Regions from separate parts of the Homo sapiens genome. Here regions 1 and 3 are each reported to be linked to region 2. The links are microRNA targets in miRTarBase. Many come from high-throughput screens and were not tested one by one. Region 2 holds a microRNA gene; each other region holds the end of a gene's coding sequence.

What was found. Region 2 holds the annotated microRNA hsa-miR-6748-5p (UGUGGGUGGGAAGGACUGGAUU, at 2,164-2,185, opposite strand). A microRNA usually pairs through its seed, bases 2 to 8, with sites in the 3' UTR of a target mRNA and lowers its output. Matches are read on the target gene's strand: a 7mer-m8 pairs with bases 2 to 8, a 7mer-A1 pairs with bases 2 to 7 and ends in A, and an 8mer does both.
Region 1: miRTarBase lists ZNF641 as a target of hsa-miR-6748-5p. The part of its 3' UTR that is shown has no 7-base or 8-base seed match.
Region 3: the mRNA of HAPSTR1 is a reported target of hsa-miR-6748-5p. Seed matches in the 3' UTR shown: 7mer-m8 at 2,821-2,827.

The regions. Positions count from the first base shown.
Region 1 is chr12:48,339,997-48,343,249 of GRCh38, reverse strand. ZNF641 (zinc finger protein 641) reads left to right here. Exons shown (of 6, transcript NM_001172681.2): 6 at 1-3,253. The coding sequence ends at 277. Among named protein-coding and RNA genes, the nearest start is that of ZNF641, 9.3 kb to the left of the region's middle.
Region 2 is chr11:62,788,798-62,792,004 of GRCh38, reverse strand. MIR6748 (microRNA 6748) reads right to left here and starts at 2,190; the gene lies at 2,120-2,190. TMEM179B (transmembrane protein 179B) reads right to left here. Exons shown (of 5, transcript NM_199337.3): 2 at 2,795-2,982; 3 at 2,579-2,713; 4 at 2,326-2,404; 5 at 1,605-2,119. The coding sequence ends at 1,958. It overlaps TMEM223 (transmembrane protein 223), which reads left to right. Exons shown (of 2, transcript NM_001080501.3): 1 at 1-326; 2 at 1,090-2,034. The coding sequence starts at 11. The coding sequence ends at 1,382. RefSeq lists a silencer at 1-19 and an enhancer at 90-599.
Region 3 is chr16:9,116,503-9,119,755 of GRCh38, reverse strand. HAPSTR1 (HUWE1 associated protein modifying stress responses) reads right to left here. Exons shown (of 4, transcript NM_014117.3): 4 at 1-3,088. The coding sequence ends at 2,844. Among named protein-coding and RNA genes, the nearest start is that of HAPSTR1, 26 kb to the right of the region's middle.

The DNA of each region.
Region 1 (3,253 bases), not on the chromosome of region 2:
CTGCAAAGGCCAAGAGGTTGGAGAGAGCCCTGGCACAAGGAAACGGCAGCGTGCCCCACCAGTGCCAAAGTGTCACGTGTGCACTGAATGTGGGAAGAGCTTTGGCCGAAGGCACCACCTTGTGAGACACTGGCTGACCCACACTGGGGAGAAGCCCTTCCAGTGCCCTCGCTGTGAGAAGAGCTTTGGCCGAAAACATCACCTGGACAGGCACCTGCTCACCCACCAGGGACAAAGTCCCCGGAACAGCTGGGACAGAGGAACATCTGTCTTTTGAAATCTGTTTCCACTACAGCTATGGTCAAGTCTATCAGCCGGTGCTACCAGGAGTCACTGCCAGGGCTGCCGTTCTCCTGAACCCCAGTGGCCAGAATCATAAGCCCTGACCCCATCCCTAGAAAGATGAGGTCCCAGCAATGGCCAGAGCATTTCTCACCAGTTCTGTGAGATAGCACATAAAAATAGAGTTCTTTGGGCAAAACTTTTGGGAAGCAATGCATCCTACATGGGCTGATATTCAGCCTGAGCTGTTCTCAAGAGGAGAGTGGTACTGGCAGTTTATGGCTGAAATCCATTCTGATTGGTTGGAGTCTATGCTATACCAGTTGTTAAACATTTTGAGTATCACTCTTGCATACTGTTACTATTATATTTTCTCTATATATAGACAGAAAGGCCATTTTAGAATATTAAAGGCTCTGAAAATTTCTGCAGTAGACCCAACTGAAGGTTCTATTAAGGCAGTGTTTCCTAAATGTATTTGACCTCAGTATCCTTTCTATTTACATCCCACAGAACTGGTGACTATGAAACACTCTGGTGAACACTGGGTTAGAGAGTAACAAGGAAACAAGAGATAGTGATCAGGCATCCAGAGCCCCCTTTTTTATCCATATGAAAGCCAGGGGGGCCAGACCTTGTTCATGTGTGGGTCTGTCTTCCTTATGCCAATCAGCAGTATATACATCACCTCTCACCCTCACCTGCTGAAAAAATAACCTTTTTACCCATTATTCCTACTCCCTTCATCCTGCACATACATATATCCAGCTGAGAGATCACACTACAAGGCTAAGAGATGATCTAATACCCCCAAATAGCCCTGGCCCACACAGAAAAACAGAAAAACAAAAAAAACTTTATCCCCTTGAACAGTCCCCTCTCTCCTCTTGACTGTCTTTATGTGTCTGTGTATTTGTGTGCAGGGTCTTTGAAGACAGCATGCTATGTGCAAACTGTACAAGCTAGGTTTTCTAGGGGCTGTGTTCTGGGGATGAGGGTAGTGGGGATTATATGGGGTTTTTTCTTTGTTTCAAGACAGGAAGCAGTCTGGTTAAGGGAGAACTAGTGGAAAGGGTTAAATGACAGGTTAAGTTGAGTACAAAGCTTTCCCAGTACTGCTGAGATTAAGACAATTGTGGATGTGTATGTCTAGGTTTGAATCTCTGGGCTGCAGATTGCTTTTGCCCTGGCAGAGAAAGAGGAGTCTTTGGGGAGGTGAGCTGTTTCTTGTTGATTTCAGGCAAGAGGCACATAGAAACTTTGTATTGAGTGGGGATTTTGTTTTAAGTGCTGGAAAATTAGGGCAGGAATTACGTGTTTGCAAGTTGTTGCCATCACTGGTTTGAATTTGACTGCCTCATCAAGGGGCAAGAGTTATTCTTGAAGATCTCATTCTCCCAGAAACAGAACTTTAGGGAAAATGGCTGTGGCTTAGCTTTTCAGCTGCTGCAGGGTAATAAGCTTTCTGGTTGGTTTTCCTTCCAATTCTGGAAAGGTGTCCACACTAAGACCCTTAACTCTAGGGCTTGCATAAGTATTCTAGCATCGTTAGCTAATGAGTTGGTCATTGTTTCTCTTTATCAATAATTGTGTTAATACCAATCTTATAATTTAAAAATTATCTTGTATGTAAGAGCAGTTCGGGGTTAGGGAGGAAGAGGAGCAAAGTGGGATATTTTCTCTTTAATGCTTAGATACTGTTTCTTCCCTAAGATGTGTTTCTCAACCACAATTGGTGGAATGAACCAGAGAGGCAAGAGGAAGTGAATTGCACCAATTTAGTTTAGCGACTGTGCCTTTTGCAGGAAAAACTGGGTGAATCACAGCTCCTCAGAGTCCTGGACTCAACTAGAATTGAAGATAGACTTATTTTGCTGACTGGGCTTCTTAGAGTTTATGTGACTTGAACAGCTTGGCCCCTGCCTCCCTTCTGCTACTGTGAGCAGCCTTCCTTCTTCCTTCATTCTTCCTGGAATGCAGTTCTCTTGCTTATGATCCTATGAATAAGGCAAAATGGCTGGTCTTTGTAAGGCAGGTCTTGCCCTAGCTTCTCAGAAACAGGAGCATTTTAGGATCAGTATTAGGAGATGCCCCAGGGAGTAAGAAAGTATTGGGTTCAGTGATAAATCTGGACTCTGACATTTCTTTTACTCTCCCTCTTTAATACTAAAAGCTCTGCATAAGCAATGGTTCAGAACCTGTCTTGGGTACAGACCTGTTGAATCTGACAGAAACCAGAAACGCACTTTTGAGAAAAAGACATTTGTAATTCACTCAGTTTTCCATACACATTTAGCAGGTTCAAAGCCCATCTGTGGAATCCCTAAACTGCCTTCAAAGAAAGGGAGTTCCCCGATCTAAAATGGTCATTATATATTTGTGTCAAGAATTAGAAGGCAAGGGTCACTAAATATTTTAAGGATTAAGGTACCAGAGGCATCAGTGGTATAAGGATGGAGTCTGGTCTTTAATTACGACAAGGGTATTGCTTACATTCTACTCTCTGGTTTTCAAAAAGATCTGACATGCTGACAAATCCAGCTCCTCACAAATCTTGTTTGAAGGACTTGTGGGAAGTGATATTCCTTACTATTAGATCACGCCCCTTATAACTACATGTTAACATCCAGCCTTTTATCTGTTTGAGTAATTGTAGGGATAGAAAGTGAAGCCCCCAGAGTTAGGTGCAAGTATAGCACCCAGCTGAAAGGCATCATGGAGTCTAAGGGCCTTCTACAGAAGGGGCAATCCTTTGGGTTATTTCTGGTGTACCACTGTCTTCTCTACCTCGGTCCAACACCACCTCTCTTGGACAAAAAATAAAACAAGCAACAGCCATCAGATGAGTGAATAGATTTGAATGATTTTTCCCACAGGGAATCAGCCTCAAATGTTCATGTTTCACCCCGTCCCCTTTAAATAAAAAGAATCTCTGTGTTCTCTTTGGGCAAAATGTAAAACAGGGATATCA
Region 2 (3,207 bases):
TCGGCTGGCCATGGCGGCGCCTTGGAGGCGATGGCCCACGGGGCTGCTAGCCGTGCTGCGGCCCCTGCTCACCTGCCGGCCCCTGCAAGGCACGACGCTGCAACGGGATGTGCTGCTCTTTGAGCATGATCGGGGCCGCTTCTTCACCATCCTCGGGCTGTTCTGCGCGGGCCAGGGCGTCTTCTGGGCTTCCATGGCTGTGGCAGCCGTGTCCCGGCCCCCGGTTCCGGTGCAGCCTCTGGATGCGGAGGTCCCAAATCGTGGCCCCTTCGACCTGCGCTCCGCGCTCTGGCGCTACGGTCTGGCCGTCGGCTGCGGCGCCATCGGTAAGACGTGGGCTGGCTTCCCACTGTGACAACGTGGGGTGGCGGGACACGACCTTCCCTATACAGGCAGGGAGAGTCAGGGACTCCCTATCCGAGAGTGGCGGGCGGGCTTTACCCCACAGAAATGTGAAACACTGGCCGGGCGCGGCGGCTCAAATGCTGGGAGGCCGGAGGCGGGCGGATCACTAGGTCAGGACATCCAGACCATCCTGGCTAACACCGTCAAACCCTGTGTCTACTAAAAATACAAAAAATTAGCTGGGCGTGGTAGCAAGCGCCTGTAGTCCCAGCTACTCGGGAGGCTGAGGCAGGAGAATCAATTGAACCTGGGAGGCGGAGGTTGCAGTGAGCCGAGATGACGCCACTGCACTCCAGCCTAAGCGACCGAGCGAGACTCCCCTCTCAAAAAAAAAAATTGGGAAACAGTGATGTCTCCGAGCGCCGTGCCCTGTCATAGCCTAGGCTGAGGGCTGCCCTTCACTCTGCGACCTTGAGCAAGGTCCTTAAAGCTCTCCATCTTCCCATTAAAATGGAAACGGACATCTATTAAGGTTGTTGGGAGGAATAACAAGATTACTGGGTATAACAGGAGCTCAGTACTGCACTCCAGCCTGGCCGGCAGAGTGAGACTCAGTCTCAAAAAAAAAAGCGCTCAGTAAATACTACTTTCATCCCACAAATTTCTTATTCAGAGGGCACTGGAAAGGTCGGTACTTAGATGCCCAGTGAAAACCCCTCACCCCAATCTCTGCCCTGCCTGCAGGAGCCCTCGTACTCGGTGCTGGTCTTCTCTTCTCTCTCCGGTCTGTGCGCTCAGTGGTGCTTCGAGCTGGAGGGCAGCAGGTGACCCTCACCACTCATGCCCCCTTTGGCTTGGGGGCCCATTTCACAGTTCCTTTGAAGCAGGTATCTTGCATGGCCCACCGGGGTGAAGTCCCTGCCATGCTACCTCTGAAAGTCAAAGGCCGACGCTTCTATTTCCTCTTGGACAAAACTGGACACTTCCCTAACACAAAACTCTTTGACAATACTGTGGGTGCCTACCGGAGCTTGTGAAGAAATGACCTCAAGTCACTCACCTCTCCAAGAGGAGGATAAAAACTGAACCTTGGGGAGCCAGGTGTGTTGGTTCACACCTGTTGTAATCCCAGCACTTTGGGAGGGTGAGGCAGGAGCACTGCTCGAGCCCAGGCTGGGCAACATAGCGAGACCTTGTCTCTATTTACAAAAAAAAAAACAAAAAAAAACGCCAATCTTAGAATGGAGTAACAACCAGGGTCACACAAGGAGGTCAAGATTCATTAACAACAAATAAAGGAGCAGTCATCCCTAGGGCAGCTGCCTAACAGTACCTCTAAGTTTCAGTCCATGTCTGCTTAGCCTTCACTCCTTCCTCCTATCTAGTTGTACTTTAACATCAAAAACTCACTACTAAGATGAAGACAGTAATATAATATTTTGGTACAAAAACAGCTGCAGGAAGAGGTGGAGGGGGGCCTGTCATTATGTTTCCCCCCCACCCCCCAACGAAAGGAAAACTAAGACTCCCAACATAAACAGGGCCTTGAGGGGGGGGATTACAGGCACTTGGGCATGGAGTCTTCGGCTGCAGGAAGCACTCCGCTTATTCTTCAGGAATGGGAAAGGCGTGACCCAACGAGAGCATCTGTCTCAGAGCTCCACTCAGGGTCACCCCTCTCCAGAGGCCGGTATGGGGTGGCTTCAGACTTCCACTGCACGACCTGGAGCACCAAGACCACACACCACAATACCAAATTCACCCAAGAAGAGGTCTGTAGGAGACAGGGACAGGATCGTCAGGAGTGGGACCATTTCAAATCCAGTCCTTCCCACCCACACACCACTCTGAACTGCTGAATTTTAAGCTGACAACCCCTTCAGCTCCTCTCACTGGTAGGCCAAGCTCACAATACACTGGTGAGCACCCACACAGCTACAGATATTTATGTCAGTTTTTCCTCCTATCCTTGGGTCTCACTTCAGCATTGTGTAGGTTGGAGTAAAACTGCAGAGCAGTTCCAGGGGGTGTCCATGGAATTTTCTGGGCTTCAGAACAGCTGTGAGGTCAAAGAGACAGTTGTGAGAAAGCGTGATAGTTTATATCCGAGGCACACCTGTGCCCAGTGCCCTGTGAGTTGAGAGCAACTGATGGGGATAAAAGGAAATTATAGGACCCCGCTGCAGAGGGAAGGTAGTCAGCCCCAGCCAGGCTTCCCTCCCTCTCCCATTACCTAATTGTAGTGTTCAAGGAGATGATGGAGTTGCAGAGAGACCTGGTGCCAAATCGAAGGATACAGGCAGACACCAAGACCAGGAAGACGGCTATAGCTGAGATGGCCAGTGCAATGCGCAGCCCTATAGCACCTCTGAAAGGGAGAGAACAAGCCTTGTGGTGGAGGTGAGGCTCATCCTACCTCAGCCCCTGGCCCTCAGGGTTAGGCAGTCACCTGTGGGAGTCCTCGATGCAGCTGCTGTAGATCCAGAAGAGCAAAAGCAGGAGGCAGTAGAGGGCCAAGAGGCCAGAGGCCCCAGCTACAAAGTAGCACAGGGATGGTGCTGAGGGACGGGATAAGGCCAGGGAGGAGCCATTCAGGGTGGCCACACCATACAGGGGACATCTACCACTGAAGGAGCCCTGTGGAGAGAAGCTGCTGAGTCCTAGATTTCAGGTTAATGTCTCTAGATACAGTCTCTTGGTAGGGTGTTAGTGATAACTTAGGAATGGTCCTGCATTCCAGGAAGTTATTTGTGCACCGTCAATTCCTATTTCTGGGACAGGGATATTGATGGAGAGGGCCTGCTGGGGAATCACACCGGCAGTGGCCAGAAGGATCAGAAAATAGGCAATGAATATAGAATG
Region 3 (3,253 bases), not on the chromosome of region 2:
TTGCATCAAAAAGTTATTCAGATGTGATGACCAAAACAAAACTGCAGACAAGCCCCATGGTTTTTTTGTTTTTATTCATTTTATGATTAAGGTGTTTATCACTACTCCAGTTGGGTAAACCACATTGAAGAATCTGACTGCAGGTCTTTAGATTCAGCCAAATGCTTTCCAACAATTTTGCTCTAAAAAATATTAAACATTTTAATACTTCAGCCATGCTCAGAACGCTGCAGTCTAAGGATGAACTTCAACTTGCCCATGCCAAGTTAGGGCGACAGGAGCAGAACTAAGGAGCTATGACGTCTAAAAGAATCAGAGAATCTGGCTTAAGACGAAGAGAGCTTCTGTTCCCCAAAACTAAACTGTCTAGTTTTTAAATCCACCCTTAACCGTTCAAGAAACTGAAAAAGTCAACTTGTTTTTAAAATACCACACAGGTATGCAATCTTCCATGATTTGTTTTGCATCTCAGCTAGCACAGGGAAACCCTTGAAAAACCTAGCTGTCAGAAGTTTTTCCTGAGGGAAATCATTACGCTTCTACTGCTGAGCTTCATGTTTATTCTGTGCGTCGGGGAAAGGAGAAAGCAATGGGACAGAGAAGGGAAAAGTTGCGACTGGGTGACAAATTCATTAGGTGCATTTGAAAGTAAACGCAATGGAAAAAAGTAACAAATGCTAAAGTTTTCTAAAAGTTTAATGAAGCCAATAAGGCATATAAATTGTGTTCTGGCAGACATTAAGACCTGCTTTCTCTTACCAAAGAAAATGGCACGTTTTATCAAAATTTGACAATTCAGAGTAAAGGGTACTGAGATTAAGCTTCAGAGCACCAACTTAAACAAAACAACCAAAAAATTGTTATCCAACGTGGAAAGAGGAGCAAGAACCAAGGCATAAAGGGGAATTAAATATGTGTTCCTCCATCTCAAAATCCTTTTAGGAATAGGAGTTCTGGCCACTTGTGAGCAACACATTGCACCACCAAACCCCAATTCCAGAATCTAAATTTACGATAGAAAAACAAAGGTAACTCCAAACGCATGTCTTGTATATTCCAAAGGGAAGCTTGAAAGTATTCATAATACATAGGCTTGTCTGTTTCAGGTAAAATGACAGATTGCTATAATTCTTCCTGCTATTATAGTCAAACAAAAAATGACCCACTTTCGCAAAAGTTTAGAAATCTCTCACTTTCATTCCTAGTTTTAGTATGGAATTCACTTTTTTAAATAAGGGCTACATCTATAATGAATACAGAACTTCAATTCACACAACATTTCTAACATTCCATTCACATCCCACCCAGTCAATGAATGAACATTTATGGTTAACTCAGCAAAGTTTCTTCACAGAAAGATATTATTAAATGGCTGAAGAAATTGCAAACTTTAACAAAGTGCTGTGAGTAATTACTGGAAAAACCCTTACACTGATTTGCAATGGTCTTTTAAGGATAAAAATAGGAAGTAACTGATACTGGACTACAAGTTTGCAAGGAAACATTTTTCACTGTCCTACTTGATATATAATATAATAATATGATAGAATAAATTACAGTACCTGGCAGGCTGACATCAGTTCTTCATCTAAAAAAACACTATCATTCAGTTCAGGATATTAAAAATGAAGATGAAACATGCTCTAAAACATTGTAGCTACAAGAGGTCTTATATTTACTCAAAAGAGGAATCTATTGAGAACTTTTTATTTAGGTCTACCTAACAGCTAGAGAATCTCCATGCGATTCCATCTTTTCCAGAATGAGATTCCAAACTGAACTTTTTAGGAGAGGGATTGGAGGGACAGGGAGAGTTGGGTTTTGCTATTTTAAGTTGCAATCACATTATTAGTAGATAAAAAAGAGAGCTTTATCATCTTCCACCCATTCCAATGGAAACTGCACTAAGCAGGGACTCCATGAAAAATGTAAAATGATAGACTAGAAAACCTACCCCACCATCCATCTCCCTCTCCCTCTCACTAATACTGAACCAAAAAGGAAGCCCATTCTCAAAGTTCATGACCTCTCTACTTTAGGTCACCTCGAATGCAGTCTACATGTTTACATTTACCATAAGGAAAGTACCCCGCATGGGAAGTAGTGTTTGTCTTAAAACTGAGTACTTTAGGCCTACAGGGTTACTCTGGGGACAGTTTAATAATAATACTGCTACTTTAGAGCACTAACACACACAAAGTGAATCCAATAAAGCTCTGGGCATTGATTCAATATTTAGTATTAATTGCATGACCATCATAGCACCTCTTTACATCACACAATCACCAGAATTAGAAATTGATTTGAAAACTAAAAACAGGGCACAGTCCAATAATTAGAATTGCACACTGTTACTATATAGAAACCAGGTGCATGGTACAGTGCAGCTGCAAAAATGGAAGCCAAATCATGTTTTTAGACAATTTTAGGAACCTGGCAATACTGTTGAAGCAAAATACTCAACACAGCAGGAAATGGACCCAAAAAAAAAAAAAGCATTCTATAACCAAATAAACATCTGATATTTCCTTTCCCTTTGAGAATAAATACAGTTAAGGTCACTTTTAGCCTTGGAACGGATATATGTTTGCCTATGATGATCTTGCTAACGACTACACAATATCTGATGTCCTCTGCTAGGATTATAGTTTTAAGAAAGCCATAATTACAAGAGGCATCTACTATAAATACCTAGAACTTCCTTTTATGGCAACCACTATAGAATTCACTTGTCTTAAACAGTGAACAAGGGAAGATGGCCTCATGTTTCCTTTGCAATTATAGTATATGTTGAGGATCAAGTGGCTTTCAAGCAGCATGGTGGGTGTGAAAATGTTTGCAGTTTAGATCATTCTGTTGCGTTTATGGGTTGGTGAGTCTGTAATGACATCGCCACACTGGGCTGAGGTACGCTTTCTAGTTCCACCATTGTCCAAGTGGAGTGCCATTTCTTCTGATATGAAAGTGTTCAAATCGACATCATGGAGTCCATTTCTCCTTCGACTAGCATTCGATCCACTGCTTACATGTGTAGGAGAGCCTGGGGTACTCGAACGCACGCTTATACTAGCCATTGCACCACTAAGACCTAGGAAGAAGAAAAAAGGTTTTAGAGTTGCTCAATTATGTAACCCTTTTGAAAGCAACCCACTTACTTTCCATGTTGTCACAATGTCAAAGCATGTCTGCCTATTTCCTTTATAAGGGATTACTAGTAAGCAATTAAGTTTTATTCTGGATAAACATATCATCT